Regions from separate parts of the Homo sapiens genome. Here region 2 is linked to region 1. The links come from fine-mapping of genetic effects on gene expression. A gene starts in region 1. The other region holds a variant in brackets. All regions are shown on one strand. Distances are from middle to middle.

Region 1 (4,240 bases):
CCTTTTTTTCTCTGCTGCTTGAACCAGCATACACGATTTAAACAAATGAACCAGAACTCCAAGTGGGTTTTCAAATATTTGAAAGACTACCCTGTAGATGACTGAAGATTCTGTGCACCTCCAGAGAGCCAAGAGCAAGAATGAATGGGGACATGTGATCAAGAGATGAATTTGGGATCACTAGGAGAGAACACATTAGTATTGGTCAGGATACTTCTACCAACAGAAGCCTAAATTGGAAATAGCAAAGGGAGAACTTTTTTGGTACACAGATTCCAAGGAAAGTTTGAACTGCCAACCTGCAGGAAGGCCAGGGACAAAGCTGGAACCCAGGAACACCTGAACGAGGGCACCTGAAAGCCACCAGGACCCTGTGTCCTTTGCCTCTGCTTCTCTCTGTGCTAGCTTCCTTATTCCTCACTGTAAACTGGCTTACTCTACAGGGCAGGAAACATGGCTGCTGACAGCTGTGGCCTCACAGCTCAGTTTTCCACCACAGAGGGTCTGGTTTTCTTTCCCAATTCCAGTTAAAAATGTTTTAGAGAAGAACTTTATTGGCACAGCCAGGGTCTATAGTCAGGGAGATTGGGTACCGTGAATAGCCTGGCTTGAGTTTGATGGCAGTCAGCTGAGGCCAGGAGTGGGATCATGTGGGAACAAGGTAGTTGCCATTGGAACCACACGGAGTAGGGGAAAGCCATTTCCAAAAGGAGTAGGGATGGGTGCAGCTTCGAAAACAGAAGGGTTGGACTCCTTTGCTCCCACTTTCTAACAATTACAGCCATTTAGCTTCAGGTACTTTCTGGATGCTCTCAGGAAAATAGGAGAAAGAAGGATGGATAAAAAAGTCTGTGGGCACTTCCGGCCGGGCGCGGTGGCTCACGCCTGTAATCCCAGCACTTTGGGAGGCCCAGGCGGGCGAATCACGAGGTCAGGAGATCGAGACCATCCTGGCTAACACGGTGAAACCCCGTCTCTACTAAAAAATACAAAGAAAAAAATTAGCCGGGCGTGGTGTGGGGCGCCTGTAGTCCCAGCTACTCGGGAGGCTGAGGCAGGAGAATGGCATGAACCCGGGAGGCGGAGGTTGCGGTGAGCCGAGATAGCGCCACTGCACTCCAGCCTGGGCGACAGAGCCAGACTCTGTCTCAAAAAAAAAAAAAGTCTGTGGGGACTTCCAATATTTAGACCAGGTTTCGGCAGTGCTTGGCACTAGTTCTTGGAAATTGTTGCATGATTTGATTATTTTTCTGGGTATCAGGACTCAGCCCATTTCCCCCTCTGGTGCTGAGAAATGGAGGCCGAAGGAGTGATCTAGAAGTGTTAATTGAGCCCCTAATCTATGCTAGTTACTGGGGGTGTTGGGGGAGACAGGAGAGAGATCCCACGGGGTTCCGGCCTCCCAGGGACTCAGGTCACTAATGGAGGTGGCTTGGCTTGTCTATGTGCTGGGCCAACAGCCACTGGCGAGGCAAGGCGAGGGTCAGTCACGGCTGGTGCCAGGAAGAGGGCTGGTTCTTTGGCTCCCTGGTCTCCCGCGGTCTAGCCCAAGCTGGCCAGCGGTTGACCTGGCTCCCCTGGCCCCGGCCAGGCCTCGTGGACCCCTCATATGCCACACGGGACATGAGCAGGCCGGCCGGGAGCCGGGTCCCGGGAGCTCCACGAAGGGGCCTGTCCTCCATGACCAGGACACCCGCTGCGCCTTCCTCCCGAGGCCTCCCGGGCCTCTCCAGACGCGGCGCTACTGCAGACACCAGGGCCGCCAAGGGAGCGGACTCGGAGCCGGCCCTGGGGCGGGCACATGGGCCCCGGCGCCCCCCGGCGTCTCCAAGCCGCGCTGCCCGGGTCGGGCCAGGCCAGGGGAGGGACAGCAGCAGGTGACGACGGCCCGGCCACCGGCTATAAATAGGGGCGCGCGTCAGCCGCGGGCGGGAGCGGCGGCGGCGGGCAGGGGCCCGGGGGCCGGGGCCTGGAGGACAGGCGAGGCAGCGGCGAGTGCGGGGCCGGCGGTCGGGGAGGGCGGTGCCATGGGGTCGCGGAGGGCCCCCAGCCGGGGCTGGGGCGCGGGTGGGCGGTCGGGGGCGGGGGGCGACGGTGAGGACGACGGCCCCGTGTGGATCCCCAGCCCAGCCAGCCGGAGCTACCTGCTCAGCGTGCGGCCCGAGACCAGGTAAGTGGCACCAAGGGGCAGGGCGGCGTCGGGCCGGCGATGCCCTGGGATCAGTCCCTGTGAGGGCGGCCTGGCCCCTGGAGGCCTGGGCTGGGCCTGCGCCCTCGAGCCCTCTCAGCCCCAAGGCCCAGGGCCTGGGGACATGGCCGGGCTGGAATGGCTTTCATAGCCCCTTGTGACCCCTCCTGATCCATGCGCCTCAGGCCTCTGGCAATTCGAGGCTCAAGAGAGGACAAAGGCTCCACTTTGGAGTGATTTCATGGGGTCTGAAGGCTTTCCTTATCTCCCCTGCCCCCTACCCTGCTACTCCCTGGCTTGGGATTCCACAGCTAGCGATAAGGAAAGCCAGAGTGGCTGAAATTCCTCCCTGGCAGGAAGGGAGGGGGAGAGCACTGGTGGGGACAGGGAGAGGGTGCTGGGGGGCTGCCCAGAGTAGGAGCTGCTTAGCTCAGGGTGGGGAGGTTCTCCAGGAAGAAATAAACCTTTGTAAATAAGGTTCCTCTACTGGGCCGAGGACTTGGGTCCTCCCCAGGACCTGAGTGGGGGCTGGTGAGATAGGGGGTGGGATGAGGTACTGTCTGGAGATGTTGGGAATTAAGGACTTGCAGCTCTGAGGGAGCCAAGTGCCCTGTCCAGTTTGGGGAAGTGAAATGCCAAGGGAGGTGTGGAACTGATGAGCCCTTCACTGGTCTTCCAAGAGTTCAAGAGGTGTGGAAGCTTTGTTTTAGCAGCTAGGCCACCCACAGATATAAAGACACAAAGACAATAGACAGGCATCCAGGAAATCAAAGGCACACAGGCACACGTGGACAGGCGCATTGCCATGGAGACAGACACTTCCTGCCCCCTGTGGGCAGCTCAGTTTCCCTTCACTTCTGGAGTCTGTTTTCCAAAGGGAAATGTGTTGAGATAGTGGTTGTTTCATAGCCTGAGAACTTGACTTGTGTATTATGCAGAAAACGGCCATTCCTCCAAGAGGCTGTCCAGAGACCTCTTGTTCTCCATTCCTAAAACAGCATAAAAACAGGCATCGAGGACATTCAGGAAAAGTCCTGGGCACTTCCTCGTGAATTGGCTGAGTCCTACTGACCTTGGAGTTGGGAAAGTTCAAATGTAACCGGAACCGGTTTCTGCATAAAACTCGTCAAATGGTGTCACATGTCTGGGGCAGGGCTGAGGACTGATGTTAGTGACTGAGTCAGACTCAACAAGGCCCCTGGCTGCCAGGAAAGAATACCCCTTTTTCTTACTCCTGGCTCTACAGATAAACCAGAATGAAATTTGGACATTTATTCCAGTCCTTAGAGAAGCTGACTCCCTTGTGGGAGCCTCACATTTGTCACAGTGACTTGTCTGGGCTTTGCCTCCTGTGTTTGGCCTTTGTCAATACCAGTGGAACAAACAGAAGAGGCGGAACCAGGGTCCTTCTTGGAGACAGCAGCAATGAAGGAAGGGAGGAAAGAGTGCCTTGAAAACCAGGCAGAATGGGGAGGGCAGGGGATCTGGGCTTTTAGGAAAAGGGCTGGAGAATGGACATAGTGCTGCTGCCTGGCTGAGCAGTTGTATGATAGATAAATGTTAATTGTACACCTCATGAGCACAAAGCTTGTGCCAGCCTGAGAGCTAGAGGCAGGATAGAAGTGGCTGGCTTAAGTCCCTTTGGACCTAAATGGGAATGTTCTTAAAAGGAGTCTCTTTCATCAAGTATCTGGAGGGGGCAGGACAGCAGGAGTGGGAGAAAGCTTTGGACTTTGGGCTGTGTTTTGCCCCTGCAGAGTTTTTTACTGCTCCTGCTGGCTAGCCACAGACCCCTAGAGGTTCTGAGAGACAAGGACAGCCAGATTTATCAGGCATCTGGAAAAGCCTTTGGCCAAAGTGGGGAGAATGTGACTGGGGCTGCAGTGGGGAGTGGAGGAGGCGAGGCAGTTCCTGCTTCTCTAGTAAGGCCTGACCTGTGTTGGAGGGAGCCACCGTACTGTCTGCTGTCCCTCAGAACAGCCTCACTGCCTGTGGGGGTGGGGAGAGCTCCCTAGAGATAGGGAGAAAGACAGTCCCTCGAGAATTTTGCCA
Region 2 (4,240 bases), 55 kb before region 1:
TGCTTCCCAGCCATATCTCCTACTCCTTCTGCTTCAGGGCCTTTCTCTTCCTTCTTGTTCATCCCTCCGCCTAAAACCTCTTCTCCCCCATATTCTCATGGCTTGCTCTCTCACTTCAGAACTGAGAATATATTCACTCTTCTGATGTCATATGAGGAGCCCTGGTTGAGAAAGAGAATAAGTATGACTTTTATGAATCTGTCTCTGTATGTCTGTCTCCTTCCAGTGGATTATCAGCTCTACATGGGCAGGAATTTCATTTGTTCTGTTCACTGTGGTGTCCACTGTGGTATCCACAGTGACTAGAACAAGGCCTGGCACACAGTAATGGTGCTCAATATTATTGAATGAATGAAAGTACATGCGTGCATGTCTGCGGTGTGTGTGTGGTGTAGAGATAGGGTAGCAAAGGGCAGTGTAGCTAGCAGCTGGAGTAGGAGAGAAGGAGTGTGGTTGGGTGGAAGAGAGGAGGATGAAGAGGATGCTCTCAGTAGGAACGGAGTTCAGAGACATGGTCCAGTCTGTTCCAGTCTCTATACCCCATCTCTTACTGGTGCTGTTCAGCAGGGAGGCAGTGAGTTGGTGCTGCAAGACCAGTGAGGGGCAGCTGCTGAAAAACACAGTAGCCCTGGTCTTAGGCCTAGATTATGGAGGTTTTTGAAAGCCTGGCCCAGGGCTTGGACCTAATATGGTAGGCTACAGGAAGAAGTTTTTTTTTTTTTAGGACAGAGTTTCCCTCTTGTTGCCCAGATTGGGGTGCAATGGCACAATCTTGGCTCACTGCAACCTCCATCTCCCGGATTCAAGCAATTCTCTTGCCTCAGCCTCCTAAGTAGCTGAGATTACAGGCATGCGTCACCACACCTGGCTAATTTTTTTGTATTTTTAGTAGAGATGGGGTTTCGCCATGTTGGCCAGGCCAGTCTCAAACTCCTGACCTCAGGTGATCCACCCACCTTGGCCTCCCAAAGTGCTGAGATTACAGGCATGAACCACCATGCCCGGCCCAGGGAGTTTTTGAGCAGAGTAAGTGACCTGATAAAAATGGTGTTTGGGAAGGATTAGTCTTAAAGAAATTTGCAGGATGACCAAGTAGGGAAAGACCAGAGAGGGCAAGGAAAGAGCAAGGACCAGGGGGTCGGCAGACATGGGATGGAGCAGATGACATCAGTGAGACTTGGTAATGGCGGGATGCTCCCCAACTGCTGTGTGGCTGCCTTGACAAAGGCTTCCAGTGCTTCCAATGTGGTAGAGTTTAAAGTGTTGTCAGTGGTTTCAAGTGAGTTTTGGAAGCAGGTGGGGTGTAAGTAGGAGAAAGGAAAAGGAAGGGTCATCCTCAGGTTGCTGAAGGTGTTCATCAGGTTGAGGGGTCTGGGGGTAAGCAGGCAATAGTATCCCAGATGGCACCTTCACCTCACGGGCTGTAATCCCAGGAGAGGAGCCTGTCTGTTCTTTCTGGTCTGCTGAAAACTCTTCCTGTCTGAGTACAGCTGTCAGTGCTCTCAGGCTTTCTTCTGAATCTGCACATATGCTAAGATGATATCTGAAAGCCATTTGTTCCATCACCTTTCAAGTTCATTTTCTGTTTCCGTATGTTTATTTCTCAGAACAAATTGTCTTTGACGAACAAACCCATTGGATTGGATTAATTGTCTAGAAATACTTATTTCTGAAAGTATTTCTGAATGGTTTCTGTTTCATTAGGCTTCTATCCTGTTTTTGATAAGGGTTGTGCCAAGATGAGATCAGTGAAGAAGTGTTTTTGGTATAATCAACCAAA[C/T]GGCTGCTTCTTTATGATCTTTTGGTATGAGTCATATTTTGAGATTTGTGTTCCTGATGTGTTCATTTAGAGTATATATGTGATGGTCTGCTATGTGCCAGGCACTATTCTAGGCACTGGGAATATAACAAGGAACAAAATAAACACAAATCTTACTCTTATAGGGCTCATTCTGGTTTGTATGCATTTATAGATAATAAGTAAGATAAAATATAAGAGATGGTGAAAAGTGTTATGGAGAAAAATGAAGCAGGCTTGGTGGATGAGGGGTTTGGTGGGGAGGAAGGTCTTCTATTTTAAATTGAGAAGTCAGAGAAATCTCATGGATTAAATGGCCTTTGAGCGGAGGTCTGAAGGAAGTGAGAGAGGGAGCCACGCAGATATCTGAGAAAAGAGCAATCAGATTGGAGAAAAGAGCAAGTGCAAAAGCCCTTCAGGCTGGGGAGGGTTTAAGGAACCCATGGGGGAAGGTACGGATTTTGGGGATCCTATGGTGGCTCCACCTCTGTAATTTCTGGTTTAATTGGTCTGAGCTGGGGTTAGGCATTAGGATCGCTCCAGGTCTAAGAAGCACTGGTCTGAGGGTTAAATAAGCCTTATCCCCTGTATTTGGTGGAGAGATTTGAAGGGTAACTGTGAGTAGGAGACTTCAGCTGCTCTGATGGGAAGGGCAAGCAAGGGCCCCCTGACCTTGCCAGGAATAACAGGAATCTTCCACAGTAATAAAAACTCTTCAGTTTATGTCCCTTTTCTTATTTGATTACCTCACCTCTCTGGGCCTCAGTTTCCTTGCTTGTAGAGTAAGTGGTTTAAATTTAATGGTTTTCTAGAATCTCTTTGGCTCCGATAGTCCTGAATCTTTCTAGTGTTGGAAGAAGCTCTAATCTAGAACAGTGTTCTAGAGCAATGTTGTCTAATCTTGGTCTTATAACACTCTAAGTTGTGTCATCATTATGGCAAGGGCTGTGGTGAATGTCTCAATACCAAATTGAAGGAAAATTTGTGCCCTATTCAGTAGCACCTTGGGAAGATGAGTGTGTTGGGAAACTTGAAATGTGAAAACTGACCTGCTGGTTTGGAGTCCAAAGTACAGGGGCAGCTTGGTCCTTGGGGGCAGGCAGGAGCCTGAGTGCCAGTCTTAGTTCACTCACTGGTGAGTTCCTTGTGCAGTGTGAAGAGTGTGTTATAAACTGTAAGATTCCTACACATCCAAGCATGCGTGTGTGATTAGGGTGACCTGGGAGAAGCAGCCAGCCTGGAAGTGAAGCCTGACACTCAGGTTTGTTAGCCATTCTGCATCCAAACTGCATGATTGCGCATGTGAGAGAGACTGTCTGGATAACCCAACAGAAACTGGTGGCCAGAGGAACCAAGGTTAATCTGGAGTAAATAACCTAGTATACTCATTGGAGCACCTCCCAATTTATTTACTATTGGACAGCAGACCTAAGACACCCCTTGGCCCCTGATCTCTAACTTTTGTCCTCATTTGGACAGCACAGTGTCTGCTTGTTAGTTTATGTTTTGAAATGTGAAAGCCCAAATAAGAAAAGGAAAAACTTCAGGAAAGTTTTCTCTAGTTTCTTTCTGTAGAATTGAGATAATTAGTTTCTTTCCCTTCCCTTCTACATTTTTACATTAATATTGTCTGTATTACTATTTAGAATCCAAACTAAATGTTGGTCTGTCAAAACTGGACAAAAATGAAGTCAAGCGAGGGAATGCAGGATTAGAGTGAGAATGGGCAGAACGAGAAATTCAGGGAATGAGTCCTTTTATTAGGTAACTTGTGGGTATATGTAGTTGATGGGCCGTTAACCAGTGTTTCTCAACGCTAGTCAATTAAATCTGAATCTTAGAGGGGTAGTGGCCAAGTATTAGTAGCTTCCAAAGTTCTCAAGGTGATTCTCATGTTTGGCTACAGTTAGGGATCACCTAGTTTTTAAAAAAGAGTTCTGCCGACTTTCCTCTTTTTGACCCTCATTCTCATCACCTGCTCTGTGCTGACCTCTTCCTACACTGCTATCTGCCCCCGCCATGATTTCTGCAGCTCACCTGCCCCCCTGGCCCCTGCTTGGCCCTCTGCTTCTTCAGCTTCAGCGGGCATCCCGAGCACTGGAGGAGGAGTTGTGTGGAGGGGTAAACTAAACCCGGCTTTACTTCCCTTGTCTTTCTGTCCTCTCTGCATGCAATTTCTGGGGCACTCTGAAAACTTAGGAGGGAAAGCTTGGTGGCCACTGAGGTTGGTGGCATAATGCTTAACAAACATGTATTTGCTATGTGAAAGACAGTGTTTTAAGAGCTTTATAAATATTAACTCATTTGATCCCTATAATAGCCCATTTTACATATGGGGAAACAGACAGAGATGAAGAATCTTCCCCCAGGTCTCAAGGCTAGTAAGTAGTAGAACTAGGATTTGAACCCGGATGGAGTCTGTGCTCTGAAGCACCAGCCTGT

What was found. PIP is the estimated chance that this variant, and not a neighbour inherited with it, causes the effect.
Region 2: its variant is the best candidate, but not a certain one, in a credible set for the expression of ALPK3 in iPS cells (HipSci, PIP 0.53).

Annotation. Positions count from the first base shown.
Region 1 is chr15:84,815,426-84,819,665 of GRCh38, forward strand. It overlaps ALPK3 (alpha kinase 3), which reads left to right and starts at 1,931. Exons shown (of 14, transcript NM_020778.5): 1 at 1,931-2,170. The coding sequence starts at 2,028. RefSeq lists enhancers at 1,029-1,559, 3,687-4,218, 4,219-4,240.
Region 2 is chr15:84,760,259-84,764,498 of GRCh38, forward strand. All of the region lies in intron 1 of ZNF592 (zinc finger protein 592), which reads left to right. Among named protein-coding and RNA genes, the nearest start is that of ZNF592, 14 kb to the left of the region's middle. RefSeq lists an enhancer at 356-857. The variant C/T (reference allele first, on the strand shown) is at 1,781.